Linked DNA regions of Homo sapiens: regions 2 and 3 are each linked to region 1. Evidence: fine-mapped expression QTL. A gene starts in region 1. Each other region holds a variant in brackets. All regions are shown on one strand. Distances are from middle to middle. Region 1 holds the start of BZW2 (basic leucine zipper and W2 domains 2). Region 2 overlaps BZW2 (basic leucine zipper and W2 domains 2). Region 3 overlaps BZW2 (basic leucine zipper and W2 domains 2).

The links.
Region 2: its variant is fine-mapped to the expression of BZW2 in whole blood (TOPMed, PIP above 0.99). The same link has a PIP of 0.9 or more in nasal epithelium.
Region 3: its variant is fine-mapped to the expression of BZW2 in whole blood (INTERVAL, PIP above 0.99).

The regions. Positions count from the first base shown.
Region 1 is chr7:16,640,759-16,651,424 of GRCh38, reverse strand. It overlaps BZW2 (basic leucine zipper and W2 domains 2), which reads right to left and starts at 5,244. Exons shown (of 12, transcript NM_014038.3): 1 at 5,137-5,244. It overlaps ANKMY2 (ankyrin repeat and MYND domain containing 2), which reads left to right and starts at 5,671. Exons shown (of 10, transcript NM_020319.3): 1 at 5,671-5,918. The coding sequence starts at 5,852. RefSeq lists enhancers at 2,559-3,070, 5,265-5,544.
Region 2 is chr7:16,680,882-16,691,547 of GRCh38, reverse strand. It overlaps BZW2 (basic leucine zipper and W2 domains 2), which reads right to left. Exons shown (of 12, transcript NM_014038.3): 4 at 10,144-10,247; 5 at 8,703-8,768; 6 at 5,508-5,643; 7 at 1,642-1,751. Among named protein-coding and RNA genes, the nearest start is that of BZW2, 40 kb to the right of the region's middle. The variant T/G (reference allele first, on the strand shown) is at 5,269.
Region 3 is chr7:16,669,958-16,680,623 of GRCh38, reverse strand. BZW2 (basic leucine zipper and W2 domains 2) reads right to left here. Exons shown (of 12, transcript NM_014038.3): 3 at 6,036-6,212. Among named protein-coding and RNA genes, the nearest start is that of BZW2, 29 kb to the right of the region's middle. The variant C/T (reference allele first, on the strand shown) is at 5,772.

The DNA of each region.
Region 1 (10,666 bases):
TTCTGTGTGGATATATAAAAAGGATGACAGTAGAATATCATCCAATAGTAGCTTATGATATATTCTCTACAGTGCTAAACGTTATTATCCCTTATTATTCATCTCTGCCCCAGGGCTTTTCTTGAGATTTATTTAGAAGTCCTCAAAAATAACAGTACACCTGTTATATTTTTTAAAGTTCTCATCTAGCATAAAAATAAGTTGAGATGTAAAAAGAAAATATAATGCTACATCTGACACAAAAAATAATTCTACATCTTAAGTTATTGTTTTCCTACTAAAATATTAATATTTTCAGAATGGAATTAAAGATAGCCAAAGGATTATACTATCTTAAATATTAATACAGGGCATTATTCTTTCTTTTTGTCATTATACTTTTTTCCTTTAATTTTTGAATAAACTTAAAAAACATCAATGGAAACACCTATTGCTAAAAATCAAGAAAGAATAATGAGAACATTATCTTTTTGGCATTTAACCTTAAAGAATGGTTCATTCAATGAGTTATTCAAATCTTTATTTTCAAAATAGATAGTTTACAAATATGACTACCTGAACAATTTTGGCACTCTTCACTTAATACACGCCAAATTTAGAACGGGGCAAATCATTCCACTCGGCACCTAACTGCCCAAAAGATACTTGCTAAAGAGCGCCATGGCCTCAATACACAGAAATGAGTGAGTTAAGAATGAAAAGTATTCTTGTTTATGACCTGCTAAGATTGGTGGATTTCATATTAATTAAATATTCTTGTAAAATCCCAAAGTCTAGGATGACATGTTATAAAGGACATTTAATATATCTAAAACACAATAAAAAATTGTAAAGATCAAAAAATCAGTTTAAAAAATTGCACAAATTAGAAAGTAGGTGTCAGATTAAGTATTCAGCTAAGCAAACACTGAGTAAGAACCTACCAGTCACACCCTGTCCTGGGCCTGCTCCTGATTTTCCTAGACTAATACTTATCCTATCAGTGCTGACATTGCTCGAAACAGTTTTGGTACTCTTTTTTTTTGGAATGCCTTCTGAGTTGGATTATGACGCACAGAAGAACATCAGTATCTCCACTTCATTCACCTCTTGATTTTCTCAGTTAAACTAAATGTATCTGTACCCCTTCTTCAGAATTTTCTTTTCAAAAAAGATGAAGATTAACTACCAGTAAGATATTCATCAATTTGTTCTACAAGCACTGAGTAATGCCACCAACCTTTTACTTTTTGGAGAAGTTAAAATGTGATGTCAAATGTTTATGGAAACGCATTGTTCACAAGACAGTTCTTTGCAGATTTAGGTGTAACTGTTTTAACACTTAAATGAATAATCACATAAGCGAAACTCCAAGTATAGAAAAAAGAACATTTGTATTTATATTACTTTCTTATGTTGTGTTTAAAAAAAAAAGATTTCTTAGAGGCTGTAATACTTCCAAATTTTCTTTTTAAAAACTTCATTATGGAAAATCTCAAATATATCCAAAAGTAGAGAGAACAGTATAATCAAGTGAATATACTCATCACCCATCTTCAACTGTTAACATAGTCAATTTTATCTCATTTATATTCTCATTCAGTCTCTCTTCCTTTCTGTCACAGAATTATATTAAAGCAAATCTCAGCTGTCTTCTCATCCAGTTCTGAAATAATTCTGTTCCTATCTCTAAAAGATAAGTAATCTTTTAAAAATATAACCGTAATCTACTTCCAACTTAAAAAAATCAAAATTTCTTATTATCAAATATCCAGTCAATAAAGATACCTAAGTCTAAGGAAAAAAAGTCAAATGTCAAGACAAACAGTACCCTGAAAGATGTAATACTCAAAAATGCAACAAAAAGGCAGCATTCTCCTAATGTAGAGAGCTGGAAATCAGGGTCTTTAATGGGGAAATCTAAGAATGGCATGCCAAATTTGTAACATGTGCACAAGAACAATTTTTCTTGGTTGATAGCATTCATCAGAATGTCAAGAAGCTTGAGATCCAAAACATTTAAAGACTTTCTGCCTCTGGTTATGATTGTGCGTGCTTAGTGCCACCTCACCTCACATTGCCAGGAAGGATTAGTCAAGTAGGAAAACAAATCCACCTAAAATAACTTAGAAATCAAACTGAATTCAACTCAGCTTGTACTGAGCATACACTAGGTGCAAGACACTGGGTTAAACCTGAGAAACAAAGATAAATTTGACCTAGTTAATGTATACTGTAGAATGAGAAGGGACCAAACAGATTAATAATAACTATAATAGAATGCGATGAGAAAGTGCTTGTTTTAGGTATTTTCATGGAGATTCAGATGAAGAAGCAATGATGTCAATTTAGGGGGGCGGTAAAAGAGGGGTCGCTAGAATCCATAAGAAGAGAGAATTAAAGGCTGCCAGCAATGATACCAGTAGCCATGTTGCATATCAATATCCTCCATGTACAAAGATTTTACTTATAACCCTTGCCAAGAGACATGAATAAATGTATTTACTAGCATGTATATTTCCCTTACTGGATAGAGAGGGAGAGATGAACACAAAAGCTGAAGAAAAGAGGTTTTGTTTAAATTGTGTCTGGAAAGTTGAATAGTTCATCAGATCTGGAGAGGAGATTCAGTGAAAAGGGAAGGGAAATCATTCAGAGGAGGAGAAAAGCAGGAACAAAGGGGTGGAAATTACCGGCAGGTTGGGGAACAAGCAGAGTGGTGACCTTAGAGCCCAGTGTGTGGGAGGGCCCAGATGACTGGAAATGCCTGCTGAGACCATGGATGGATTGGAACCTTCCAGGCCAGACCCAGCCCTCTATTCTGTGGCCAGCAGAGAGCCATTCAAAGAATGATGGGTGCTCAATGTTTATTGAACTGGTAGTTCCCTGAATTAGCTAGATGGAGACAGGTGAGAGAGAAGCAGGCTACTTAAGATGCATTGCAATAGCTCTAGAGTGGTAGATATGAGAGGACACATACAACATTTCAAACATTTCAGAAATCATTATTCCAATTCTGACTTGACACTTCCTAATATGGGATTGTGGGCAAATTATTTCCCTTACTTTCTGTCCTCTTATTTGCAAAGTGGGTATAATATTGGCTCATTCCTGGGTTGTCATAACACTAGAATAATTCTATGCAAAGCATCTGGTAGAATATCTAGCACAGACTAAATACTCAATATGAAGTAGCTATCTTATTATCAATAAAACTTCTTTGATGTGAATCTGTTTTAATATGCTCATTATCTAATCTTATCCCTACATTAAATATTTACACCATACAAAACTACTAATGTAATCAATCCATCTAATGAACAGTACCCATTATGAATCTGTTTCTAGAAATGTAAACTGAACATGATTTATTTGCATTTCTAGGTAGATGTTAGATTCTCTTTCAACGTTATTGTCTCTAAATTCACTGGTCATGTATTCAGAGAGCACTAAATACCAACCAAGTGTCATAAGGCATCAAGAAAATAGATAGTAAGCTGCTATCCTCGAGGAACTGACAACCCCAGTGAGACAAACAGGTGTGACCTTCAAGTAACCATGGCCCAGATTTGGCACAAGAGATGGAAATACTAGCAATGAAGTACCCAATTATGTGTATGCATCTGCTGGTAAGATGCTAAATCACATGTTCCAGGAGGTTACCACTCAACTGTTTTTTTAGGTTTGTGGGTTTCTTCCGCATGATACTATGTTATAAATCAATTGTAACTCTGAACTAACAGCATTACAAAAGATTGGTCACTCTCAGGAGCCTTACTACTTGCTTGAACAGCCACATCATTATTAAAGCATCATCCAACAAAAGTATCTTTGTTATACACTGAGATGAATAATTTCAAACCATTTTCATGTAAGATGTTCTGGCTCAGATCTGTCCCAGTCTTTAATGCTGAAGCTTTAGGGGGGAAAAACAGCTGGAGTTTAGGAAAGATTTTTGCTAAAGGCAGGAAATAATGATAAACATATTCCAGGAGATTTCAGATGTTAGTGAAAGCTTCACGCAAAATAAATGCCTAAGGCCAGAGGAAAATGCATTTCGCTTTTCGTATGGCGCTATGAGAAGAAACAGTGGTCCTGGGGATGCTTAACAAAAACCACCTACATAATTACTCAAATATTTCTCTTTGACACATACACGTCTCTTTGACACACATATTGAGAGAAACATCAATACTACTCTGTAGGGAAACAACAGTAAAACATAAACACTAATTTCCAAAGAAACTTTCATTGATGATGTAAATATAAATCTGCACCCTGGAGAAATGACTGATTCCCGCATTTTAGCAAGCAAATCTTATTCTGAAATACACACTTGTATTTACCCCCATCTACCTATGGTCGAAGCTCCAGGCTACATATTACAGTTGAATGAAGGTTGGATTAAGAGGCTAATCTAAGGCTATATATAGGCAGCAACACCAATTTAATCTCCGCCCTCTCCAACCTCCCCACCCTCCACTCCCTATTTCCATAAATCTCAAGATCTGAGTTACAAAGAGAACCGAGAACTCTAGCAGAGCAAAGAAGCCCTTCCTTCCCCCTCCCACAGGCTGTCTCTCATAAACGAAGTATTAGTGCAAGTGTAAATTGTTTCCAAACATCTTTAACAAGCAACATTGGGCGATCAGGTTTTCTTCTACAGCTTCCACAGAGGCCAAAGAGATGACAAGTAGTGGGGAGGGCGAGGATCACCAGCGTAAAAACTACCTTCTCCCGAGTCTGTTCTCACTGACTCGCTAGTAATGGGGCGCTGTCCTTGCGACCCCTACCTAGCCCAGAGCCCCGGCCCCAGCCTCCCCGGGAGCCGCATCTGGCGGTGCCACGCACGAGACCATGTGCACCCGCCACTTCCCACCGCGTGGCTGGCCCCCGCCCGCCCGCCCGCGGTCCCAGGGTCTCCCGAGGCGGCCAAACGTTGCGAGTCGGAGGTCTTCATCCCAGGGCACTGATACCCCGTACGCGCCGTGATGATGAGGTGGAGCGGGGGCTTCTCCACCGCGAGGCAGGAAGCCGCCCCAGGAGGCACATGCTTCCTCCCCGCCAGCTCCTGCCCGATGGAAACCCCGGCGGGGCGGCAGTCGCTACTCTCGCAACCCTCACGGCGCCCCTTGCCTCACCTGGGCTGCTTCTCACCTGTCCGAGGAGGTAGCGACGACGCGCAAGGCTGGGGGCTGCGGCGATTCGTGCAGCAGCAGCGGCAGCAGCAGCAGCAGCAGCAGTGGCGGCAGACAATGGAGGAGTGAAGGACAGACACATTGACATAGACACACGGAACCCGGCGCAGCCCCGCCTCCCGTACCGCCCCCGTCTCCTAGACCGCCCCCGCCCAGACTGCGCCACTCCCGGGGGAATGGTGGGGGTACGGCGACAACCTGGGGCCTCTGCATGCCCCAGAAAGCCGTCGCTGAGCACATAACTGCCAGCTGTAGAATTTTCAATATTACATGTGGCGAAATATTTGAACCGGACAGGATAGGGGAGCGGAACGTGTAGGAGGAATTTAATTCCCCCCTCCAGCTTTCTGCATTTGGTTTTGTCCTCCCAGGTTGCTCCAATGGCGATCTCTCGCTACCGCCTCCTGCGGCTCCTCCTCCTCGGCAGGGCCAATGACAGGCGGCAGGCGGTGACCGCCGCAGGGCCTGCGGAGACCGTCCGCCTGGCTCGCCCGAGCTCGCCCGCTGTCCGCCAGCCCGCGGGAGGGAGGAGAGAAGCGAAGCGTTTCCGCGGTTGGCTACTCAGTGTCTTGGTCTCAAGTTGCCTCATTGCGGCTGGCGTTCCCAATACAGACGCATCGTTTCTTTTTTAATACTCCCTAAGAAAGGGAATAACCTTCAAGCTGGCGGGAGCAATGGTTCACATAAAGAAAGGCGAGCTGACCCAGGAGGAGAAGGAGCTACTGGAAGTCATCGGGAAAGGTACGGGTGCTGGGCTGCGACGCGGCCGCGGCCAGCCTGGCCGGGGGGCGTGGCGGAGCCCGGGGGGCGCTCCTGGCCTGGGTGACCTTTGGCTGCGGTTCTGCAAGGTTTGCAGCCTGGAACCGGGAAAGAGCGTTTCTCCCTTTGGTCTGGGAAAGGTTGCAGGGGCGGAGAGGTGGGGAGGCAGAAGCAGTGCTGGGACAAGAGGGGTAGTTACAGAGGCTCGGCCTCTAAATCCGCTTTTGGAAACGTACGGATTTCCACGCCCCGCCTTAGGTTAATGCGAGCTTCCCGGGGTGTGGACCCCAGTGTGTGAATTCTTCACTGCTCCCGAGGGATTTTGACCGCGGTCAGTCCTGGTAGTTTCAGGTTCTTAGGCGGGTGTCTAAATGACCCTTTAGACTTCCGCAGGCCGAATGATCTGGATCCTTTGCCGATCCCCGCCCCCGCTTGGGAGTGGAGGGCGCCCTTAGGGAGAGGGGTTCTTCATAAGGGTACAGAACTAGGTCTGTAATTTGCTGCATTGAGACTTCCGTATCCAGGGCCTCCCTGGCTTCCAGAAGCCCCGACAGCCTCAGGAACCCTAGAGAGACAAGGAAATTGGCGAGGCCTCCACACCCACCCCTCGGCCCACGTTGCACAGATGAGACCTTCTAATCGCGCTCCTTCGCGCTTTCTTGTCCACTCCCCCAAGGCGTGCCCCACTTCCGCAGTGCTGAGTCCCAGCGGGGAGCCCCGAGGACGAGCCAGAAGCCATATTTCCCCGGAGTCCCCGAGTGGACGTCCCAGAGGAGTTCCCTGCCGAGTCCCGTTACCTGGCAGGTGACATCAGCGTGACTGCATGCTTCTTCTGCACCCTCACGGTGCAGGGATGGTGATGCGTGCGACTCCGGGCAATTAATGTGGTGATTTTAAACTCAATAATAATATAGCCATGTTTGTCCTCGAATGGCAGAGATGCCAGTCATTGCAGCATAAGGCTTCCCAGTTTCCAGTTTTATTTACTTAGTAGCCAGGCTGAAATGTGGAATCCTAGAGAATAAGGCAGATTTATTCTTCATAGCGACAAGGAAACTCCACATGCGAAGGAGAAAAAATTCCGGTTTGAACTCAACAGGTGCTGATGAGCTGAGCCCACCCGATCTGATCTCAACTATTCTAAGTCAGTCACAGCTATATCTATCAATGATGTGTTCTTTGCCTGGAATTTGGGGATTTGGGTTAGAGTTTAGATTGTTGTACTGCATGGTTCTTGCTGACCTATTTGGCATTTCAGTCTTTCAGTTCTTCCTGTCTCTAGGTAATTTCTCCCTGCCTTTGATGGCTCTGGGATTCAATTAAGCAAACATGCAAGTTCTAGCTGTGTGCCAGGTACTGTGCTGGGCAAAAAGGAGACAAAGGATCAATTCACAATCCACCAGGGACAAAAATTCTTTTAGGCAGGACAGAGCTAGTACATGTCCTCTCTCTCTCTCGCTCTCGCTGTCTCTTTCTCTCTCTCTCTCGTTTGTTTGAGACAGGATCTCACTCTTCACCCAGGCTGGAGTTGCAGCTCTCTGCAGCCTCCACCTCCCTAGTGGCTGGGACTACAGGTGCGAGCCACCATGCCCGGCTACTTTAGAAAGATTTTTTTTTTTTTTTTGTAGAGATGGGGTGGTGGGGGTCTCCCTATGTTGCCCAGGCTGCTCTCGAACTCCTGGGCTCAAGTGATCCTCCTGCCTCGGCCTCCCTAAGTGCTGGGATTACAGGCATGAGCCACTGGGCCTGGCCCATCATGTGATCTCTTAAAAGTGAAAAATAGTGAGCAGTTTTATAAATTGAGTCTTTGAGAGGGGAGAAGGGATTCCTTGGATACATTCTCAGGTGTCCATCAGTATTTATTTTGAAGATTATATAAACCTGAATTAATGTGCATTTATTCTGGTTAGTGCTGTGATATTTCTGGGCTCACACGGTGCATCAAGTTGCATGAGTGCACTGATGCTTTCATCGCTTTCATTGGACCATGCCAATGAGAAAAGAACTGATGTGGACCTAGTATGTGATGCATTCTTGTCAAATGAAGGTCTGTGGGACATCACTTGCACTCATAAAGAAAAGTAATGGGAGATATGAGAAAAACAACCATAGCCAACGTTTATTGACTGTTATTGCAAGCCACACATAATTTTAAGTACTTTACATATATTAATGCATTTAATTTGGATGAGCTAGGAATTAATTTTAAGCTATGACAGTATGAGAGACAGCATGGGATAGTGGTTAACCATGCAGGTCTGGTTTGAAATTCTAACTCATTTACTGGTGATGTGGCCTTTGGGCAAGTGACTTTTCCTGAGCCTCAAGTCCTCTGTGTGAAAAATAGGAATAATAATAATACCCACCTCACAACGTTGTTATGGGGATGAAAGTAGTTAGTATAGTTAAAGCATTCGAAATACTGCTTGTGTTTGTGATAAATATAGTAATCTTCACTTTATAGGCAAGGCAACTGAGGAACTGGGAAGTTAGGAAACTTAGTGTCAAACAGGTAAGTGGCAGAAAGTGGCAGAGCAGAGGTATCACAGGGCCCATAGGTAATAAACAGGCTGTACCTAAAAACAAACTAAACAAAACATGAAACAGTACCATAGCAGTCCATACAATATTCACTTTGAGAGGTCATTTAGTTCTAGCAAAACAACATCTGTCAAGTTAACTCAGTTTTAAATGTTACTGATTTTGTAGTTCTGTGTGCATTAAATTTAAAGTAAATTTTTATTTTATAGTTGAAGAAAGGCCATAAGCAAAGTTTATATTTGTGCCAAAAAGAGGCATTTTTTTTAAAGTGGGTGAAGTGAGTTTTTTTTTTTTTCTTTCATACGTTTTTCAACTTTGAAAAACTCTAGATGAGACAATAAGTTCTAGTACTTTGAACTAACAACTTTTCAGCAAAGTCTAGCCTGGCATCTTGGTCAATCTGAAATAAACTCGGCAAATATTTAAGTGATTCCCATCTGCCAGCCACTGCTCTCCAGAAAGACAGACTCTAAGTGGGGCTTTTTATTTATTAGAATGCCAAGAAGTTCCAGATGAAAATGAAAATCTGTTTCCAACATACCCATTTAAATCATAGTTAATGACAGCATTCATTTAACAGTATGTAAGAGGAAATTGAAATCACTGAACTGTGTTTAACTGGCTTATATGACTTGTAGAGTTACCCATTCTTCTAAGCTTTGATACCTTTTTCATTAATCTCAGAGCAAGCACTATTATGAAATAAATTAAACCTTTTTTAAGGCTATGAGCTAGATAATTTTCACATTACTTCTCTTATTTAGTACCTGAAATTCCTGGGCTTACTGTTGCTAACAAGAAAGTATTATACTTCCTTTTTTTTTTTCATATCTGTGTAAAGGAGCTATGAAACAAGTTTGGATAATAAGGCTTTTTCTTACCAACTATTGAGATACAATAAATTGCACATATTACAGGTAGTACACACTTTTTAATCAGTTTTGATTTAAACATACATCTGTGAAACCATCAGTAAGATCAACATAATGAACATCTTCATCACCCCCTAAAAAGTCCTTATGCCTCTTTGTGATCTGTCACTAACTTCACCCCCATCTGCAGGCAACCACTAACAGATCTCTGCCTCTGTTGATTAGATTTCTCTATTCTAGAATTTTATATTAGTAGAATCATACAATAAGTATCCTTTTTTTGAGGGGGGGCTGGCTTCTTTCATTCAACATTATGATTTTGGGGTTCATATTTATTATGTGTACCAATAGTATGTAGCTTATTTTCTTCTTTTATTTCCAGTGGAAGGATATACTACTATTTGTGCATCCATTCCCATTGATGCCCAATTGTTGTTTCCAATTTGGGACTATTGAAATAAGATCCTGTTCTAAGGTCCTGTGTCGTTAATAATACTTCTGGTGTCTTTATGGTTGAGAAACATTCAAGTCTGCTTATAACCAATTATAGTACAGAGTTCAAAGAAAAAATTAAAATATATGGTTACCATTAGTTGGATGGCTGGACAGGTTATGCAACCTATATGGGCTTCATTGTCTTCATTTTCACAGCAACAGCTCTTTTAGATACTCCCAATTTTATACAGTGCTCTGTAATACTAATTTAAGATCATTTTTTTACAAAGTCTAAAAATAGATATGAGTAGGAGACCTTTTAGAAACATCGCACAAATTCACGATTTCAAAATGCATGTTATAATTAGAAGTCTCCACTATGTGTGTGTGTGTGTGTGTCTGTGTGTGAGACAGGGTCTCACCCTGTCACCCAGGCTGGAATGCAATGGTGCGCTCTCGGCTCACTGCAACCTCTGCCTCCCAAGTTCAAGCAATTCTCCTGCCTCAGCCTACTGAGTAGCTGGGATTACAGGCGTGCACCACCGCGCCCGGCTAATTTTTGTCTTTTTAGTAGAGATGGGGTTTCACTTTTAAAATATATTTATAGCTTTATATCTATGATTATATCAAAATCTATATCCATATGTTCTTGTTTTAAAATTAAGGCACTTTAAACATTTTTACATGATTTTACTTATACGTAAACACTATAACAACTAACAAAGCCAAATAGATTTCTAAATCCTTAACTTGATTATATATTCCTTAAAATATCCGTTTTCGTGGCTTCCAATAAATAATGATTGCAATCCAGCTGGACATAGTGGCTCATGCCTGTAGAGTGACCCCTCTGCACTTTGGGAGGATCCAAGAGGATCACTT
Region 2 (10,666 bases), 40 kb before region 1:
CTGTGTTCTGGTACTTTGCCATGAAGACAGAATGGCCCAGATGGGAGCTGCTCCCTCAGCCTGTGCCCGAATGAAAAGGCATGTGGAACTAAGCCAGGCTTAGCCAAGATAGAGCTAATCTATAGACAACCCACAGCCTCATGGACAAGAAATATGTTCCCTTCATATGAACCTCCACCTTCCTCAGCAACCTATTCACTTATCTTCTGTGACTTTTGCTTCTGTTTACAGGGATTTGCCCTAAGTCCACTAGAAAGTAGGTTTCACGAGGGCAGGCAACTTTTCTATCCTGTTCTCTACTGGCTCTGCAGCTTGTGGTACCATGCCCAGCACAGGGTAGACATTCAGGAAACATGAGGAATGAAAATTATTATGAACTAGAATCTAGACTTCTGTACCTTTTTTACCATAATCTAAAAACTTTAAACACACAAATCTATTTAAGGTAAACTTCAAGAAACAAAGTATTCTTAAGTGATTTAAATTGCAAGTATTTACATTTAAAATTACTTTCATGTGTTCTTGAGGAAAAGAGATAGTCTTAGAATTATCTCATGGGACTGGACCCTTGCACACTGAAACACATTGGAAGAGAACAACAGAGAACAGGCCAGGTGAAGAGATGGCAGCGCTGTGTCTTATTTTTACACTTCATCCTAGAACTGTAAAAGCAATTCCACCTGGAGAAATCTTGGCATTTCACAGCTGCTGCATCAAGAAGAAAGAAATTGTAGGGAGCAGATAGAAATTACAAGAACAAAATATTTTTCTGGATTTTCTTAGAAAAACACAAAGATGGAGAAATAAAAATATAATCAAGCAATTGTGACACAATTAACTTGTTTAATTTCTGCAACAGCTTAAGTATTTCCAGGGAAATCTTGTTTAAACTTTTATTTTGTTAGCAAACTATTTAACACACATTTGAGATTAGCACAGTCTGACTGCTACTCAAGACAGACATCACAAGTATTTGATTAAGTGAGATTGATGAAATTTTTATCATATTAAAACCTTAAAATGTCTAGAAAGTTATGATTATAGGCTGAGTGTGGTGGCTCACGCCTATAATCCCAGCACTTTGGGAGGCTGAGGTGGGCGGATTACTTGAGGTCAGGAGTTCAAGACTAACCTGGCCAACATGGTGAAACCCCGTCTCTATTAAAAAAAATCCAAAAATTAGCTGGGTGTGGTGGAGAGCACCTGTAATCCCACCTACTCGGGAGGCTGAGGCAGGAGAATTGTTTGAACTCCGGAGGCAGAGGTTGCAGTGAGCGAGATTGTGCCATTGCACTCCAGCCTGGGTGACAGAGCCAGACTCTGTCTCAAAAAAAAAAAAAGTAAAAAAGTTATGGCTATAAAACAAAGTCTTAATTCTGATGAAATGTTAATACTATGTCAACAAACTTACAAATTTGGAAGTCTATATTCTTCACAATTCTTTAATTTTATTGTGCCATTTGTTCACAAAATAAAGATTAAAATGAAATTAGCTTCTACTACCAATTACACAGAAATAAAAGGAACAGTGCTCCAAGTCAACACAGATCCAGGGATCTTACTCATATACTACATTGCAGGCATTGCTTAAGCTCCAAGAAAGGCATCATACATACAACTCTTTAACCAGAAAACACTTACAAGCAGCCTCTTGTCTAAGTTGGCTTTTCTCAAAGACGAGGTAACAGAGTTGGCATCTTTTTCTGCCATCCATGCTTTGAAAAGCTTGACAGCAAATGAGGCCGCAATGCCTGTTGAAAAACAAAAGAGAATTTCATTCCTTTTACGAGCAAAACCAATTGTGATGGTGTGCAAAGCAACCAGGTTTCCTGAAATGTGTAAATAACTAAAAGACTAATTTTGGTACAAATGAAAAGTCAATAGACCTCTAGGCAAATTCTCCTCTTCTCATTACTCAAACTAGAACATTTTCAGGAAAAGGAAAATAAATTAAAATATTTTTCAAATTTGGACTCCTTGAATCCAACCTGGTCTAACTGCAAGTTTATTTTATTTTACCTTGGTCAAAAACATATTTCACACCCAGTATCTTTGGTGTTATTGCCTTTATTTCACCCTCTGGTTCATATGTATTTCATCTTTATAACAGTGATCTTGAGGCACAAGAAAGTAAATTAGGAGACACAAAACTGTAATGTCACCTTTATCAAGTAATTTGCTAATAAAGGATGCCAGTACAAGAACACTGATAGTGATAGATACAATAAGTATTGCTACGAATAGATGAACACATATCATTTACCTTAGTTTTGCTTTTTATAAAAAGCATTTTATTTATTTATTTTTATTTTTATTTTTGGGGGGATGGAGTCTCACTCTGTCGCCCAGGCTGGAGTGAAGTAGCACGATCTCGGCTCACTGCAATCTTCACCTCCTGGGTTCAAGTGATTCTCCTGCCTCAGCCTCCCAAGTAGCTGGGATTACAGGCATGCACCACCACACCCAGCTAATTTTTGTATTTTTAGTAGAGACAGGGTTTCGCCATGTTGGGCAGGCTAGTCCTGAACGCTTGACCTCAGGTGATCCACCTGCCTTGGCCTCCCAAATTGCTGGGATTGCAGGCATGAGCCATTGCACGCAGCCATAAAAAGCATTTTAAAATATTCTTGAGTTAAGCTATAAAAATACCAAGGCTGTTTCAAGTTAAACTCTTCTGGATTTAAAAAAAAATCATTATTAAGCTAGTTATGTTAAATCAGGAAACCATTTAATCACATGTCCACATTTACATTACCACTTATTTCCAAATAGAAATAATCAGATAACAAGAAGACAGTTCTATGAACACTTCAAATTTCTAAATTTATGTTGCGGTTATTTAATGAAGAGTTAAGATGTAACTGAAACATTTAACTGATTTTTCTAAACTGAAGGTTCTACTATTGTTATGAGCTAATGATAATGTGGCCTAAGCAGCCTCTATTCTCTTTACCTCCTTCCTAAAAGAGGTCCCCTTTTATCCAGTCCAGGTGACTACTGATTAGTCTAAGTCCTGGTACCACCCCTTTCTGATGATTAATTTAGTGACCTCGCTTAAGCTCATCTGCCCAAGGCACGCCCCTGGCAATTGCTACTGGACCTGCACTAGTCATGCAGCCTGTGTCAGCCAATCAGCTGAAGGAAAGATAAATTATCCTCTGTTCAGGAGAAGTGTTCTTCCACTGAACCTGAACCAGGAAGAATATGCCATAACTGTGTCAGCAGGCATCTTATAACAACTAGAGGGGGCACCATCCTTGGGATGAAGTTAATGCTATGAATGATAACAGGAGAAAAATACTTAAGTCCTGAATGATACTGCTGTTCAGCCTGAGGTCTGTCCTAATTTTCTATTTATTGTTACATAAGAAATCCATGTCCTTATATACCAATTTGACCCAGGTCTTCCAGCAACTGGAAAGTAAAAGCATTTAATTGGTCTATCATTCATATAGACACCAACTAAACCTGATTTTCTTCCCTTGAATAAGCAAAGAAACTAAGTTAAAAAAAAAACAAAAACGGCTATAACAACAAAACATGCATTACACCTTAACTGAAAGTTCATGTTAAACAACTTAAGATGAATTTTTAGCATTATCATTAGCTCATAAAACCAATATAAAATTTAATATAAATTAACACTAGGCTGTAATCTGTATCGTAAAGAAAAACTACGCTTGAAACTAGGAGCCTAAAACTGAGATTTAACTTTCTTTATAGTTACTCCTCTGAGTAGGATAATCCCATCTCCCTTGGTCATTTATTGGATGAGCTGGGGAAAATGATTAATTTCTTAACCATTTTCTTTATTTCTTTTTTTTTATTTTAGATAGTCTTTCTCTGTTGCCCAGGCTGTAGTAAGATGATGTGATTATAGCTCACTGTAGCCCCAAACTCCTGGGCTCAAGCAATCCTCTTGCCTTAGTCTCCTGAGCAGCTGGGATTGTACAGGTGTGCCAACACACCTGGCTAGTTTTTAAATTTTTTTTTGTAGAGAAGAGAGTCTTGCTTTGTTTCCCAGACTGGTCTCAAACTCCTGGCCTCAAGCAATTTTTTTACCTCAGCTTCCCAAAGTGTTAGGATTACAGGCATGAGTTACCATACCCAGCATTTTCTTAATCCTTTTCCAATTAGGAAGCAAGGGTTTAAACCTCTAGTTTGTAAAAGATGGCAGAGTTTAAGGAAAAGCCATATAACAGAGGTACTATGTTACTTCCATAGCAAAGTTATTTTTCTCCTCACCACCCCCCAAACATTTTACTACAATAATTTCCAGACATACAGAAAAGTTGAACAAATTGAACAATGAACATTCACATGCCCACCATCTAGTTTCTATAACTAATATTTTGCCGTATTTGCTTTATCAGATATCTATCCACCTAATAACGTAATTTTTGGATATATTACAAAGGAAGTTACAGACATCACTTAGGTTTTTAAAAAAACTAGAAAGGCAATTATTTTCTGTTATGTTGGCTAGGATAATTTAAAATAATTAATGATTAACATTTATATTCTATGTTGACTTTCTGTGTGCAAAATGGCTAATAGCAAAAATAAGATGTGTGTTGTATTGTGAATTTTCTTCAGGGAAATACTTTAAAATGTCATAATACTAATAACATCTAACAATTACAGAGTCTGAATTGTCATAAATCTGAGTGATTTTAAGCTAAAAACTAGGAAGAGTCTCTGAATAAGACCAATTGACTCTCAATTTACTATTCTTTCCTTAGCTACAAGAAAACTATGACTCCTTTCTTTCACTATAGGCATGAATGAAGCTAGGACTTCATATATGTAGGAGGAAAACTTTAAGTTCTCAGAAGAAACAGATGTTCTCACAAAAGCTCTTTTAATTTATTTTTAAGGAAAAATAACTGTTTTGTGTTGCATTGTAATTTGACTATCATTATCCTCCTACAAGTAAACAGCCGACTTTTATTTTATTCTATAACCAAACCATGGTATGCATGCCTATCCAACCCTTAATGCCTTAAAATTAAAACAAGACTCCTTCTAATGCAGCAGACTTAAAATTGTTTTCTAAAACTGAGACAATGAGTATCTTAAAAAGTGCAATCAAAATGAATATCTGAGCATCAGTTTCTCTAGACCTTGAGAGGGGAACAGTTTTTGTTCTTATAATAGGGGTGAAAGTTAAAGGCTGCCATTTTGTGTCGAAGGGCAAAAAGATTACCAGATCGATTTCGGGGTATTTGACCTAGGCATCAAGTCTTCCATGAGATTTTAATTTGCTAT[T/G]AGTCTTTCTTAATATGTCTTTGTACAGGTGTGCATATTTTTTCCTTCAAACTTCCTACAATTAACAAGTCCACTCCTTTTATTATTTGAAAGGCAATATACACCCATACAAAGATATTCTCTTAAATGAAGAATGAGTAATAGAGGACACCAAAAAGAGCCACTGGCATTTTTCTAACTATCTGTGACTTTATTTTTCTTTTGTTGTCTGACAGGCGAGAAAACAGGAGCCTCGTTACCTTCTTTGACTAAGCTGTCGGTGAAGAGACTGGTGAGGATGGTGGCGGGCAGGGTGCCATTGCCCAGCAGAATCCCCGACAGCATCGCCAACTTTGTCTGCTCTGTTTCGGAAAAGGCTTTAAGGAAGAGGAGAAGCTGTGGGTCAAAAAAAAAAAAAAAAAAAGAAAAAGAAAAAGAAAAAAAAAGGAACCATGTCTATGAAGCAAAGGACTGAAGTGGGAAGATAAACTGTGAACATCCATGGCTACGTGGCACACAAACAGAAGGTCATATGCAAAGCATAGTAATTCATTTCATGATAAACTGGATGCTGTGGAAAGTGACTTGAGCAGGCAGAGTTCCTTTCTTCTCAGTTAATTTACTCACAGCTGTAGATAACATTCATGGAAAGGAAAAGAGATATTTGGATGATATGTAAACAGATGGATTTATGTTTGACTATGTGCATGCAAGAGAGTTAAGTATACATGATGGACATGTTTTCTGAAATGTATTGTTTTTCAAGTTTTTCCACTTCCTTGGGCGACTACCTCTTCCCCTGCTACATGTACCCATTTTCTCTGAATAGAATTTGTACGGCAAAAACATAGAAACAAAAAAAAGCCCCACACAAACAAAAAAAAAAAACAGGAAAGAGTCGAAGTTAAGCTTTTGACATTTAATATATACTTTTCTGAGCTCACGGAATACAACAGTCTTCAAAACAAGACTGTTGAGGGAGAAAGGGGTTTTCTAGGTTCTTGATGTTTTTTTGGTAAACTTTTAGATTCTCTTGCCCCAGAGGCAGGGAACTAAAAAAGTAGCAACCCTAGAAAATTTGAATGTAAGCTCAAAGCAAATAAAACGAAAAACCCACTTCCTGTATTAAATTCTAAGAGTAGTCAGCCCTGTGGGATGCCCTTCTCTCTCCTGACTCTCCTCTGCTTTGTGCTTTGACTACATTCTACTGTTACTTTCTCCATTTCAGCAGTTATTAGGCTTGCCATGGAAATTCCTCAGGGGCCACTATCACCACAGGGGCCTTGCTGATTTTCCATTATTTTGCGCCAATGCAAAATTCACTGGCATTGATAGAGACTTAAGTGTCTCCACCCTGATGACATGATTATTCCACTAACTGTGTAGGGGATAAGAAAATATTAACTTACTATTCCCCAAGAATTGAAGGATTATTATATTATAGACTATTTACATTATGTGAAAGTGGCAGAACTGGAAACAAACCAGTCCATTTGCCTCTCAATTTATACCTATTAAATTCTCAACAAATTAAAAAGAAGTTAACATCTAAGTAAGTGCCAGGGAGTGAGGGAATGAGGGATTGAAAGGCTTAAGTTCCAAGGAGCATCAGAAATGGGGAAGAATGAAAGAACTAACATAAATATAGACAGTTCATGTCAATTTGTCCTTTTCCTCCATTATAAAAATAAATAACATTTAAACGAGAATAATAAAAATTAGCCTCTAAAATAAAATTTTAACACCACTTCTTTAAGCTCACACATATAACCATATTCATTTAAAATATACTTAATCACATAGAAATGGTACAAAAATTAGATCATCATAAAAATAATAACCACATTGCTCAATTATATTAATCAACATTAAAACATAATTACATGTATACACACATATTGTTTTTTACTGCATTATATGCTAATGATAGCTAAAACTTGTTGAGTGGACCAGACACTCTTCTGATCCCTTTATGTGTATTAATACCTACAACAGTCTCCATCTCCAATTACAGAAAAGAACACTAAGGTACAAAGATATTAAGTAATTTGCCCCAGGTCAAACTACTACCAAATGGTTGCTTTGCACCTCGCATTTCCACTTAATTTGTCATGGGCATTTTCCCTTATTAATACATGTAGTTATGCCTACAAGTATAAAAGACTGCATAGTATTCCACTGTATAGATAGATTGTAATTTAATTAAACAGTCTTCATCTCCCACCAATGAACATTTAGGCTATTTTTCAATACTGTGGTGACATCTTCATACATATAGCTTTATATATCCATGCTAATGGATTCTTATAAATTCATGACGGCTGGGTCATGGGTCATGTAAGAAACATTTCTTTTAATGACTATTGCCAAATTGCTCTTCAATATTATACACAGAACCACTTTGAACTGGGTGGGGTGGGGTGCAGTTAGGTGGGGAGGAGCGGGGAGAGTAAGTAAGTAGGGAAGAAGTAAGTATATGTTATGGTTACTTTTTTCACTTGGTTTTTTACTTTAGATAGTTATCTAAAATTGGAAGCAATGACAAAGTAACAAACAAATCTGAAACAAGTAAAGGTAGTGGGTGCCATATATAAATACAGGAGTTACAAATTGGAAGAGGGAACATGCAATTACTCAAAAGAGGACATCTTTAAGGAGATGCTACTGTGGATTTCACTGATGAGAAAGAGTATTGAGAATTACACCTATATACTCTATCTCCAAAGAGGTGCTTTTATTCCCTTTGCTAAACTGCATACAATTAAAGAATTTTGCTGAACATTAGCTGCTGTGCTACATTCTTCCATAGGCTTTAACTACTTAAATCACTTTATCTAGTTTTCATTTTAATCTCTGCAAGGTCAGAGGTTATAGCCCGTAAAACTATTCTTACTGAACAAAGCACACTGTCTTACATTAAATATTAATGGAAAAAGTCCAGAATAATCACATATTTCTTCCTATAGCTATTAGCTAATGATCTTTCATACTTATTTACCAAACATGTATTAAAAACTCACTATGTGTTTCACATACATGTTATTACATATATGGCACTTCTGCAATATCATTGTACATGTAAAATTTTATTTTATTTTATTTTTTGAGATGGAGTCTTGCTCTGTTGCCCAGGCTGGAGTGCAGTGGAGTGATCTCGGCTTACTGAAGCCTCTGCTGCCCAGGTTCAAGCAATTCTCCTGCCTCAGCCTCCCAGTTAGCTGGGATTACAGGTGCATGCCACCATGCCCGGGTAATTTTTGTGTTTTTAGTAGAGACAGGGTTTCAGCATCTTGGCCAGGCTGGTCTTAAACTCCTGACCTTGTGACCCACCCGTCTCGGCCTCCCAAAGTGCTGGGATTACAGGCGTGAGCCACCGTGTCCGGCCACTTATAAAATTTTTATCCACCCCCATGTCATTACTATAAAACAGATAGGCATTATATTTGAATTTTTACCTTTTTCATTTCATCTTCAAATGCCTTCTCCAAATACTTATATCTCCTGATGAGTTTATTGAAGACCTAAAAAAAAAACAACCATTAAATATTAGGTCAACCAAAAAGACACAGAAGTAGGTAATAGAAACTCACTATAATGACACCATAGATCTATAATAATAAAAGTGTATAGTTAAACAGGCTCACACTGTAATATAAGAACTATAAGCATTTCAAAGATGCTATCATGACCTAGGGGAACAAATATGATCAAAATGTACACGTAAGATAAAACAAATTCATTCAAGAATATAGCAGGTAGAAAAAAAAATTCGACGAAAATAAAATAAATGTGATTTTTAAACTGTGAGATGCAGAGACTAAAAATCACGGAAATGAAGGTGTTAAAGATATAACCACTTAGACAACGATGTGATGGGGAGGAGAGCAAAGTGCAGGACAGATTCTACTCTAGGTGGACAACAAACATGTTTCTAGCAGATGAGCAAAACGTGTTATAATTTACTGGCAATAAAGGATGACTGGCCCCTACAGTCCTGTTAGAACTCTGAAGCAAAGTTTGCAACTGTATTAGTAAGATTCTAGACAGTTTTCTAAGTGGAATGATGTTTTTATGTAAATGAGGATTTTGTAAATATTGGTTATTTTAATAACTGTGGAAATGATTTCTTAATCTAGTTCCTTTTTCTCCTACACACAGGCTATATTCCTACTTACAACTCTTGGTGTATTCGTTTCCTAATGTAATCAAGATGGAGTCCAAGAGTAAAAAATATGGTTGCCCTTTATGGAGAAAGAATGACTCAGGCAGGGAATTAACACACAATAAGAAAAAGAAATAAATTGCATTAAAATCCCATAAATTTTATTTCCAACTTACACTAATACTTACATATTCCTTAACATGTATACAAGAAAAACGAATTCTCCTGATCCAAGAATAAATATTTAAATTCCCACAAGAGAGGTTAAAAAAAAAGCATTATATTCTTGTAGTTCTTTTTGTTTTGTTTTGAGATGGAATCTCACTCTGTCACCAAGGTTGAGCAGTGGCACGATCTCAGCTCACTGCAACCTCCGCCTTCTGGGTTCAAGTGATCCTCCTGCCTCAGCCTCCCAAGTAGCTGGGATTACAGGCACCCACCACCACACCCAGCTAATTTTTGTATTTTTTAGTAGAGATGGGGTTTCACCATGTTGGCCAGGCTGGTCACAAACTCCTGACCTCAAGTGATCCGCCTGCCATGGCCTCCCAAAGCGCTGGGATTATAGGCTCGAGCCACACTGCTAGGCCTATTTTTGTAGTTTTAATGCCCATTATTTTCATAAGTTTAAAGGCTTTCTAAGATTCCTATTTAAAAAGTGGGTGGACTGTAGAGCTTCTATAGAGTTTTCCTCAGTCCTCTTCAAATGCTTCAGTCTCTCAAACAGGCTCTACCTGAGCATAGTTTCGGATGGTTTCATGATCTTCATTTGCTGAAAACACACAGTGGTTGGTCATCTTGGTCTTGTCACCATCATCTATGCGCGTTCCTCCAGGGGCTAAAAAGAGAAAGGTAATTGTAATTAGGATAATACTGAAATTGAGAACAGCATTTGCAGAACACATCAATTCTGGCAAATGAAAGAAAATAATCAAAGTAGATGTAAAATCTAAGAGTCACATAAAATTTCAAAGAATGACATGTATGTATAGATGTACACACGTTGCTGTACATTTTTTCCTTTTTTTTGAGATGGAGTCACACTCTGTCACCCAGGCTGTGACAATTGTGCAATGGCACAATCTCGGCTCACTGCAACCTCCACCTCCCCGGTTCAAGCGATTCTCCTGCCTTAGCCTCCTGAGTAGCTGGGATTACAGGCATGCACCACCATGCCTGGCTAATTTTTATATTTTTAGTAGAGACGGGGTTTCACCATGTTGGTCAGGCTGGTCTCGAACTCCTGACCTTGTGATC
Region 3 (10,666 bases), 29 kb before region 1:
CATGTTGCCCAGGCTGGTCTTTAACTACTGGGCTCAAGTGGTCCTCCTGCCTCAGCATCCCAAAGTGCTTGGATTACAGACGTAAGCCACTGTAGTTGGCCTTGTATACTTCATGTTTCTAATATAATACAAATTAGTTGTTTCATTCATACTCCCACCATAGTGTACTTCATTTTTGTTCCACATCCTTGCCTTCACTACATCCTGTCACTATAAGTCTGGTTCTTTCCAAAGTATATTCTTAATCATGGAAGCAAAGAACAACATTTATTCAGTAAATTTTTCAGTAAATATTCAGTAATATTCAGTAAATATTCTCAATGCAACTCCAAACACTTCCCACTCCAGGACATAGTTCTTTCTTCAGGCTTGCTAACATTTTGCAAGTATTTTGCAGATACTCTACCTAGATCACCAACTACAGAACTGACCAGATCTGACTCATAGAATCTTTTTGCCTTCTACTTGGGTAGCTATTACAATTGCTCCCTCCTTTGCTAACCCAGTTACCCATGACTGGTTGAATAGCATGGACTCCGATGCTTGCTATTTGAATTTGATCGCCCAGCTGCTATGTTGGCTAGAAGAAATTATTTTATTCTCTCTCATCTTTTTTTCCCCATGGACTCAATAGATTAGATGCCTTTTTCTTCAATAACTTTCCATATTCAAAGGGTCCTCCTGTAAGTTTCAATGGTAGCCATTAGAAGCATTAGTTGATTAGAAGAGCAGAATGAGAACATTAGGAATTTTTATTTTCTAATTTTACTTCGTTGTAATTAAGGTAGAAGGTTTGGGTAGTTAGATTAATATCTTTCATATACACAACAAATGTTTCTAGTGTATATACTTATACCAGCTACTGTGCTAGGCACCAAGGATACAATAATAGTCAAAGCTGAAAAGACAAACACTCTCTACTCATTAGCCACTCCCTTTATTTGTTTGAGTATTAGTGTATAATCACCTTGATTTAACTTGTGATTTCAGATCTCTGGATTAAAAGGGCCACCCATAGCCACCTTTCTTAGCAGGCATAGGCAAATGAGAATTCAATCAAGTTATACTTTCCTTAGCTTATCATCCCCTCTATGGGCTTCAGACTTCAGCATACAGTTTAGTAAGTAAATTAGTTTTTGGAGAAGTCAGCCCCTTCAAGAGTCTATTTTCACTCAATTAATTTATGCATGAGATTTAATTAGCCCTTTTAAATGAATATAACCACCTGGAACTGTTGCGGGAAGTCAGGGAACCTGAACGGAGGGACCGGCTGAAGCCACGGCAGAAGAACATAAATTGTGAAGATTTCATGGACATTTGTTAGTTCCCCAAATTAATACTTTTATAATTTCTTAAGCCTGTCTTTACTGCAATCTCTGAACATAAATTGTGAAGATTTCATGGACATTTATCACTTCCCCAATCAATACTTACGCAGTTGAAGATAAGGGATGAAATACACCCTGGTCTCCTGCAGCACCCCCAGGCTTGTTAGGATTGGGAAATTCCAGCCTGGCAAAATTCTAGTCAGACCAGTTGTGTCTGCTCTCAAACCCTGTTTCCTGTTAAGATATTTATCAATGACAGTGTGTGCCCAGCGGGACATGGACCTTCATCAGTAATTCTAATTTCGCCCTGGCCTTGTGATCTTGCTCTGCCCCCATCTGCCTTGTGATATTTTATTGCCTTTGAAGCATGTGATCTCTGTGACCCACACTCTATTCGTACACTGTCTCCCCTTTGGAAATCGCTAATAAAAACTTGCTGGTTTTGCAGCTCAGGCCGACACGTGATGTCACCCCCCGAGACCCAGCTGTAAAATTTCTTACTTTTGTACTCTTTCTCTATTTCTCACACCGGCCAACACTTAGGGAAAACAGAAAAGAACCCACGTTGAAATATTGGGGGCTGGTTCCCCTGATATGGAACAAACTTAGATAATGATCTTCTAAAAACTCTGGGCTAATTATTGCTATTGCTTTTGATAGAAATTATAAAACTGAAAAGTTTGATATTGAAACTACAGACTTTTGAGAGGTATGTTTTTTAAAGTTACATTGTTTAATGAAAGAAAACACTTATTACATATTAATAATATTGCTACATCTTGCATTAAAATTTTTGCTGATATTAGGACAAAGTATTGTTTGCCATTTCTAACGTTTTTGGAGTGACTGCTGTTTTTCTCAAGGTAGAAGTGAACTTAATACATTTATTGTATTTACTATACGAAGGGTAATATTGAAAGACCAAGATAGCTGCTATTTTAAGAACAATGGGGCCGGGCGTGGTGGCCCATGCTTGTAATCCCAGCACTTTGGGACAGATCACCTGAGGTCAGGAGTTCGAGACCAGCCTAGCCAACATGGTGGAAACCCCATCCCTACTAAAATTACAAAATTAGCTGGGTGTGCCGGCACACGCCTGTAATCCCGGCTACTCGAGATAATTGCCTGATTCCAGGAGGCGGAAGTTGCAGTGAGCCAACACTCCAGCCTGGGCGACAGCATTAAAAAAAAAAAAAAAAAAAAAAAAAGAACAATGGAAGAAGGTAAATTGTGAGTGTCAGGAAAATTTCTACATAATAATTAAACAAAGCATTTATGTAAGAAGAATGCACCTAGCTGGCTTCAGTCCTTACGTCACATGTCCGGACTCAGTAGACATCTGGTGTTGCATAGCTTATACCAAAACGTTTGGCCCTATGTTCTTCTTGAATGTATAGACATGCAGTGAAGAAGTGAAATCTGGGCTGCACTAACCAATGGAAATTACTTAAAACCCTTCACCAAACCTTTCACTTAGGCATTGATAGCACCCAGACGCCCAAATTATTATTTACTGGACCAGGCCTTTTCAAAACTATCAAGCAGATAGTCAGGGCCTGTGAAGTGTGCCAAAGAAATAATCCCCTGCACTGCAGGCCATACATTTCAATCCCTGTATCTTTAACCTCCTTGTTAAGTTTGTCTCTTCCAGAATCGAAGCTGTAAAACTAAAAATGTTCTTCAAATGGAGCCCCAGATGCAGTCCATGAATAAGATCTACCGTGGACCCCTGGACCGGCCTGCTAGCCCATGCTCCAATGTTAATGACATTGAAGGCACCCCTCCCGAGGAAATCTCAACTACACAACCCCTACTACACCTCAATTCAGCAGGAAGAAGTTAGAGCGGTCGTTGGCCAACCTCGCCAACAGCACTTAGGTTTTCCTGTTGAGAGGGGGTACTAAGAGACAGGACTAGCTGGATTTCCTAGGGTGACTAAGAATCCCTAAGCCTAGCTGGGAAGGTGACCACATCCACCTTTAAACATGGGGTTTGCAACTTAGCTCACACCCGACCAATCAGGTAGTAAAGAGAGCTCACTAAAATGCTAATTAGGCAAAAACAGGAGGCAAAGAAATAGCCAATCATCTATTGCCTGAGAGCACAGTGGGAAGGATAATGACTGGGATATAAACCCAGGCATTCAAGCCAGCAATGGCTACCCTCTTTGGGTCCCCTCCCTTTGTATGGGAGCTCTGTTTTCACTCCATTAAATCTTGCAACTGCCAAAAAAAAAAAAAAAAAGAAATCTGGGCTACAGAGATAAATCTGCTGATCATGGTAAAGGAAACTTTAAGAAACTCAACACAAATTATACAGATAATTTTATATGGGGAGGTGGTTAACGATGGAAGCCAGGAGTAATGTAAGAAGTGGCATGCAGAGAGGTAGAAGGAGGTCTAAGTGGTCTCGTGTAAGGGAAGAAAATAAAAGAGTTCAAGAATGACAAAAGGGCCAACAGTGCTGCCTAGAGGTCACTCAGTCTGAAAAGGGTCCATATAAGTGACTACTACAGTCATGTGACTTTGGCAAGAACCAAAACTCGCTGAAGATCACTCTGATAAAAATATATCATAATTAACGAAATACTAGAAGTCAATAATATATTAGGAAATATTCAACTCCACTATTAAAGTTTTAAAATGAAAATACTCATCCCTTACCTAATTGACAGAGATCTAGAGAACTGATGAAATTAGGTAGCTAACATTGTTAAAGGTGTATGTAAATAGGAACTCATAATTTTTGATAAAATATTAAATATAATGTTCCTTTTGAAGATCGCAATGGTGTGATCTCGGCTCACTGCAACCTCCACTTCCTGGATTCAAGAGATTCTCCTGCCTCAGCCCCCTGAGTAGCTGGGATTACAGGCACCCACCACTATGCCCAGCTAATTTGGTATTTTTAGTAGAGACAGGGTTTCTCCACGTTGGTCAGGCTGGTCTCGAACTCCCGATCTCAGGTGATCTGCCTGCCTTGGCTTCCCAAAGTGCTGGGATTACAGGTGTGAGCCACCGTGCCCAGCCCCTAAATATTCTTTAACATCCGTTTGGCTTTAATTCTTTTTAGAATCATCCAGTATAACACTGATGGGTGTGCAAGGCAGCAACATATTGCTGAATAAATACAAATCAGCATGCAGAATATCGTATTTGCATAATGTCACCCAGTCTCAAAATTTTATGAGGTAAAGAGATTTCTTTTTTCTTTTCGAGAGAGAATCTCGCTCTGTCACCCAGGTTGGGGTGCAGAGGCTCGATCTCAGCTCACTGTAACCTCTGCCTTCTAGGTTCAAGTGATTCTCCTGCCTCAGCATCTCTAGTAGCTGGGATTACAGGCAGCCGCCACCACATCCTGTTAAATTTTGTATTTTTTTATAGACACGGGGTTTCACCATGTTGGCCAAGCTGGTCTCGAACTCCTGACCTCAGGTGATCCGCCCGCCTCAGCCTCCCAAAGTGTTGGGATTACAGGCGTGAGCCACCACGCCCGGCTGCTAAAGAGATTTCCAGAAGGGAAGTAACCAAAATGTTAACAATGATTTTTCCCGGGTAATGGGATTTGAGCTCAATATAGATAGCTGTTATACTTAGACTTGAATTATTTACAGTCATAATGTAAGCTCTTCATAAACAATAAGAACAACAAAACTAATTCAGTATGTGGTGAAAACTAGCAAGGCAGAATGACAGAAGGCCTAGTAGTCAATGGGGCCATGTACCAAACAGATTGCTTGAAATAAGAGCTCAGAGAAAAAGGAATTTACGGGCAGTTCCACCTCAAGATGGAGGAATGTATGCACATTCTTTTTCAAAGCCAAGGTAGGCTGGCTTAAGCAGTGTTTTCTCAAGGAAAGGCAATGATGGCACTTTGGGCAAGGCAATCTTTCATTATGTTGCATGTTCTTTGCATAGCAGGTAGACAAATACCTGCCCTCCCCGCTTAAGTCTTTTTAACAACTAAAACACTTGCACACATTTGCAAACTGAAAATTCCTGGCCTAGGAAATTTGACCGTTTCTAGTGATTTACAGCTACGACAGGAACTAACGATAAGAACTCAGATCTAAGAATGACTATGAGAGGAAAAATGGGTGGCTATTATACTTAATAAATATTAGAATCATCTACTTAATAAACTTAAATAGCATTTGAAGCCTACTTTCCTGATGCCTCTGTTCTATAAGGTATAGCTTTTATTTTGTTTTCACCTATCTTTAACAATTTCTAATCTTCTATCTTTAATTTTTCTACTTACTTAAAATTTAAATGATTTTTCAAAAACCAGGTTTAAACTATATTTCTTATATGCTTTATTTATGGATGAAATGGCATTAATTAAACCTTGGAAATTTATACACTAAGTTATAGTATTTTGCAGAAATTACCCCTTTTATGGCCCCACCAAAAACACTGAAAGATTAGGGACATATGAGAAAGG[C/T]GGCTTTTAGGAGAAGCAAAGTGGCCAACTTTGTTGTAACGTCAACCAAAGTCCTCCATTCTATGCTTCTATTAACCAATAATCATTTCACATCTGCATTAATACCATTCCAAATCCTAAACCAGGTAAAATTATAGGCTTCCATTTGTATTTTTATTAACTCTAATAAACATAAACTTATAAAGACTCTATCTTATAAGGAAATACTTCAACAGAATTAAAAATATATAAATATACTACAAGAAGCGATAATGCATGGTTTACCAAGCATACTGCCAGCCACCAGGATATCGAAGAGTGTGTCTGCATAGCGACGATAATCTAATCTTGAGCCTGTAGAGTCCAGAAATTTGGCTACAGCTTCAAGGTCATCACCAGCCTCATTAAGCCCCTGGACAAGTGTATCCCTGAAGACTGTGGGTTCGAATTTCTCTTTTTCATCTAAAATAAAACAATTCAAAATAACAGTCAAATAAATAAATAAATACTGAGAGTATAACAATCAAAACTTTAATTCTATTTTATCTAAGATAGGAAAAAAAAATCCACAGAGCATCGCCAAAGAATGTACGAGAATATACAAATATAAACAAACAAATAAAGATGGCATAGGGGAATAAGAAGGGATGTCTCTTTTAAAATAAGTTACTGTAGGCCGGGCGCGGTGGCTCACGCCTGTAATCCCAGCACTTTGGGAGGCCAAGGCAGGTGGATCACCAGAGGTCAGGAATTCGAGACCAGCCTCGCCAAAACAATGAAACTCCGTCTCTATTAAAAATATAAAAAATTAGCTGGGCATGGTGGTGGGTGCCTGTAATCCCAGCTACTGGGAGGCTGAGGCAGGAGAATCACTTGAACCCAGGAGGTGGAGGTTGCGGTGAGCAGAGACAGTGCCATTGCACCCCAGCCTGGGAGACAAGAGTGAAACGCTGTCTCAAAAAAATTAAAAATAATAATAATAACTTATTGCAGAGTACTTAAATATTTAATAGATGTAATGAGCCATATATGTATATCTACAGCTTCAGGACAGATGTGCTAAACTTTTTGGTCTCATGACCTCTTGACACTTAAAATGTACATTTGGAATTAGGATTCCAAAGTATCCTTTGGAAAAAGACTCTGGAATCCTAATTACAAAGGATTAGGATTCTAAACTTTGGAACCCTAATTCCAAAGTTTTGGATCCTAACCCAAAAACTCTTTGGAATCCTAACTCCAAAGCATTCCAAAGGGAGTTTTTGTTTATGGAGGTTCAATCTATGGATATTTATTTTAAGAAATTAAAACAAAACATTTTATAGTATTTATTTAACAAAAAAAAATTAGTGAGAAGGATAGTACTGTTTTATACTCTTGCAAATTCTCTTTAATGCCTGGCTTAATGGCAGACAGATCAATTTTCATATCCACTGCATTCAATTTACTGCAATATCACACATCTTTAAACTCTAGAAAACTCCACTGTAAAAGTATGAGAGAATGTGTGAAAGACGTGAATATCTTGGTATCATTATAAAAATGGTTTTGATTTTGTGGGGCTTCAGAGGACTGACAGGGATATAGATATTATGTAGCTTTTTTTCCTTAGAAAGTGGATAAGACAAGGCCGGGCGTGGTGGCTCACGCCTGTAATCCCAGCACTTTGGGAGGCCGAGGCGGGCGGATCACGAGGTCAGAAGATTGAGACCATCCTGGCTAACGTGGTGAAACCCCGTCTCTACTAAAAATACAAAAAATTAGCCAGGGGTGGTGGCGGGCCCCTGTTAGTCCCAGCTACTCGGGAGGCTGAAGCAGGAGAATCACTTGAACCCGGGAGGCGGAGCTTGCAGTGAGCCAAGATCGCGCCATTGCACTCCAGCCTGGGTGACAGAGCGAGACTCCGTTTCAAAAAAAAAAAGAAAGTGGATAAGACAAACACAGAGCAATCACAAAGGCACACATGAAAAGCATAAATGAGCTGTCACAGTGAAATGGACACATGAGTCTGCAGAAGTAGTTTGGTGTGGTGACTGGAAGTTTGGGTTTGGAAAGAGTTTTGGTTTAGACTCTAGCAAAACCTTGTGGAAGGTCGACTTGGAGCCAGGTCTTGAACAAAGCAGGGATCATATACTGTTGATAAGAAGTGAAGATGACAAACCACATGTCAGATTTGGTGGAAAAGAATGAGTGGATTAAAGGTAAAGGGTCTGTAGTTCAACTCAAAGGACATCACCCTTTTTTTCCAAACCCATGGAGAATAAGTCTGGATGTGAGGAGAGAGGAGCAAAGGATGAACCCAAAACTTCAAAAGAAAAAATTGTATCACAGATCTCTCTAGAGAGAAAGGTGAAAGATACTGCAACAGAAGTGGGAGGGATGGAGGGAAGAGAATACTATAAAAATATTTCATAAATAAAGAGTTCTTGGAAATAAAAAATATGATAGGAAAAGTAAAAAACTCAATGGAAGCATTAAGAGAAACCTAAGATTATCTTTCAGAAAATAGAAAAAAGGTCAAAGACCTAGAAAATAGTAGCAAAAAGAAGAGAAAAAGGGCAGACCTGTCAAATATCCAAAAAAATACATCGAATAGACAGAATGAGAAAACAAAGGAAAGGAAATTTTTTGAAAAATCTCAATAAATCTCCCAGAAATGAAAGATTGTTTCCAAGTACATGGCTGTCTGGGAACCCAGCACAAAGACTGAAAGTGGATTCACACAAAGTACATTGATTACTGTGAGATTTCAGAATACTGGGAACAAAGCAATTATCTGAAGTTTCCGGGGTGATAAAAAAACAAGTGGTATGTAAAACTTATCAAGCAACTAAATTGCTCAACAGAAATACCAGACACAGAAGACATTTCTTCAAAATTCTTATGGAAAAGTATTTCCAGCCTAGAATTCTTGTTAGTGTTCCGATTTTTTTTTTTTTTTTTGAAACAGGGTCTCACTCTGTCACCCAGGCTGGAGGGCAGTGGCGCAATCTTGGCTCACCATAACCTCTGCCTCCTGGGTTCATGTGATTTTCCTGCTTCAGCTTCCCAAGTAGCTGGGACTACAGGTACATGCCACCACACCCAGCTAGCTTTTGTATTTTCAGTACAGACAGGATCTTGCCATGTTGCATAGGCTGGTCTCAAACTCTTGGCCTCAAAAGATCCACCTGCCTTGGCCTCCCAAAGTACTCGGATTACAGGCATGAGCCACTGTGCCTGGCCCAGCCAAACTACTAATCAAGGGTAAGAGCAATACGAACATACATATACTGAAACACCCAAGGCCTCAAAAATGGATAATAACTGAAGAGTAAGTCATGAGATCCCAGGCAAGAGGGAAAAAACAAGACAGGCAATAGTACTCTTGTGGATAATGGTGAAAGGACATTTCAAGCTTTTCCTTAAGTGTTTTGTATTAAGAGATTCGTACAACAAAGGGAAAGGTTAGGGTGGGCTAGTTTTAAGGCACAGAAAACTAAGGCCCCCCAACTCAAGAGATAATTACATTTATTAAATCAAGAGATAACAAAATAACGTTATTTTTTAAAAATGCAGTCATATCATAGTTCAGCTGTGAATAGCATGTACAATGTCACAAAAATATAAACCCTAAACATTGGTGTAGCTGAAACTATATGATACAATGAAAGAATAGAGAAGGACAGGAAGTATGGGGATGGGGGGAAGCAAGCAATGAAAGAGAGCTGAATCATCATTTTCCATAGTAGAAAAGGCATATCTACTATCTCCAACAGAAAAAATCAAGAACTAGCCATACTATGTGCATGCATAACTTTGATAAAATTAAAAACTACATTTTAAAACCATATAGCAACTGCCTAGTTTGTACTGCTTGTAAGTGGTCTAACAGAAGGGCTGGGTTGTAAGTGGTTAACACTAGTCACATAAGCATGAGAACCAGAGAAGAATGGCATTCCCAGTACCAGTCAGAGTCACGCAGCGTGAGATACCATAAAGACACACATAAATTAACTGGGACAATATTCATCATGAACAAGAGATAAAAAGTCCTTTTGATGCTGTAAGCAAAACATTATGCAGTCAAGAACATGCAAATGGTGACTGCAGAAAAAATATAATTAGGGTCTTGTTGTGTAGAGGGGGAGGAAAACGCATAGGAATTCTAGAGGAATACATTAGGTGGAGTGGGAGGAGGGGATAACTGGGTTTCTACACAAAAGGAACCCACTGAAAAGCACAGAAAACTTCACCTCCCACTCAGGGTCTAGCCAACAGGCAATTCTCCTTCCTTGTTGAAAAAAGATATTTTCTTTCCTATAATATGAGAAAGGTGGAAATAAAACAACTACATGCTGTTATATTAAGTCTTGTGACCAGTTTCCAAAATCAAATAAAGTCATTCCCACAAAGGCCCTACCACATGGTTGGATGTTGATTCAGGTGGTAGAACAGATTTTGATGATTTGAAAATTACAAATGGAGGCATTGGGAAATGTAAATGGATAAATGAGGAAAAACCCAGATTATGCCAAGAATCAATGCAGAGGACTTTGTTTTCAATGTAAGACACAACTTAAAAACTTGTTTGTAAAAAGATCTTCATCCTCCCATTCCAAAAGAATTACCAGCAAACAGAAAAAGGAAGATAGCATACTACAGCCAAGGATATTTCAACAGTGAGCAATAAGGGTGGTAGGTCAAAATGATTACTTACAGCTTGGAAATCTTAAAAACTTATGATGGACCGAAAGGACTAATAATTGTTTTGCAGGCTGAAAAAAGCTCCCAGCTGCTAAAACAAAGTGACCATCAAAAGGACTAGAAAATTCCCATATAAGAAAATGGCAAGAACACTAATGAAAACTTGAGAAACAAGACAACTTTGGAACTAAAGAGTCTTTTTCATCTGAAAGTACAGTAAATGTAGTTTG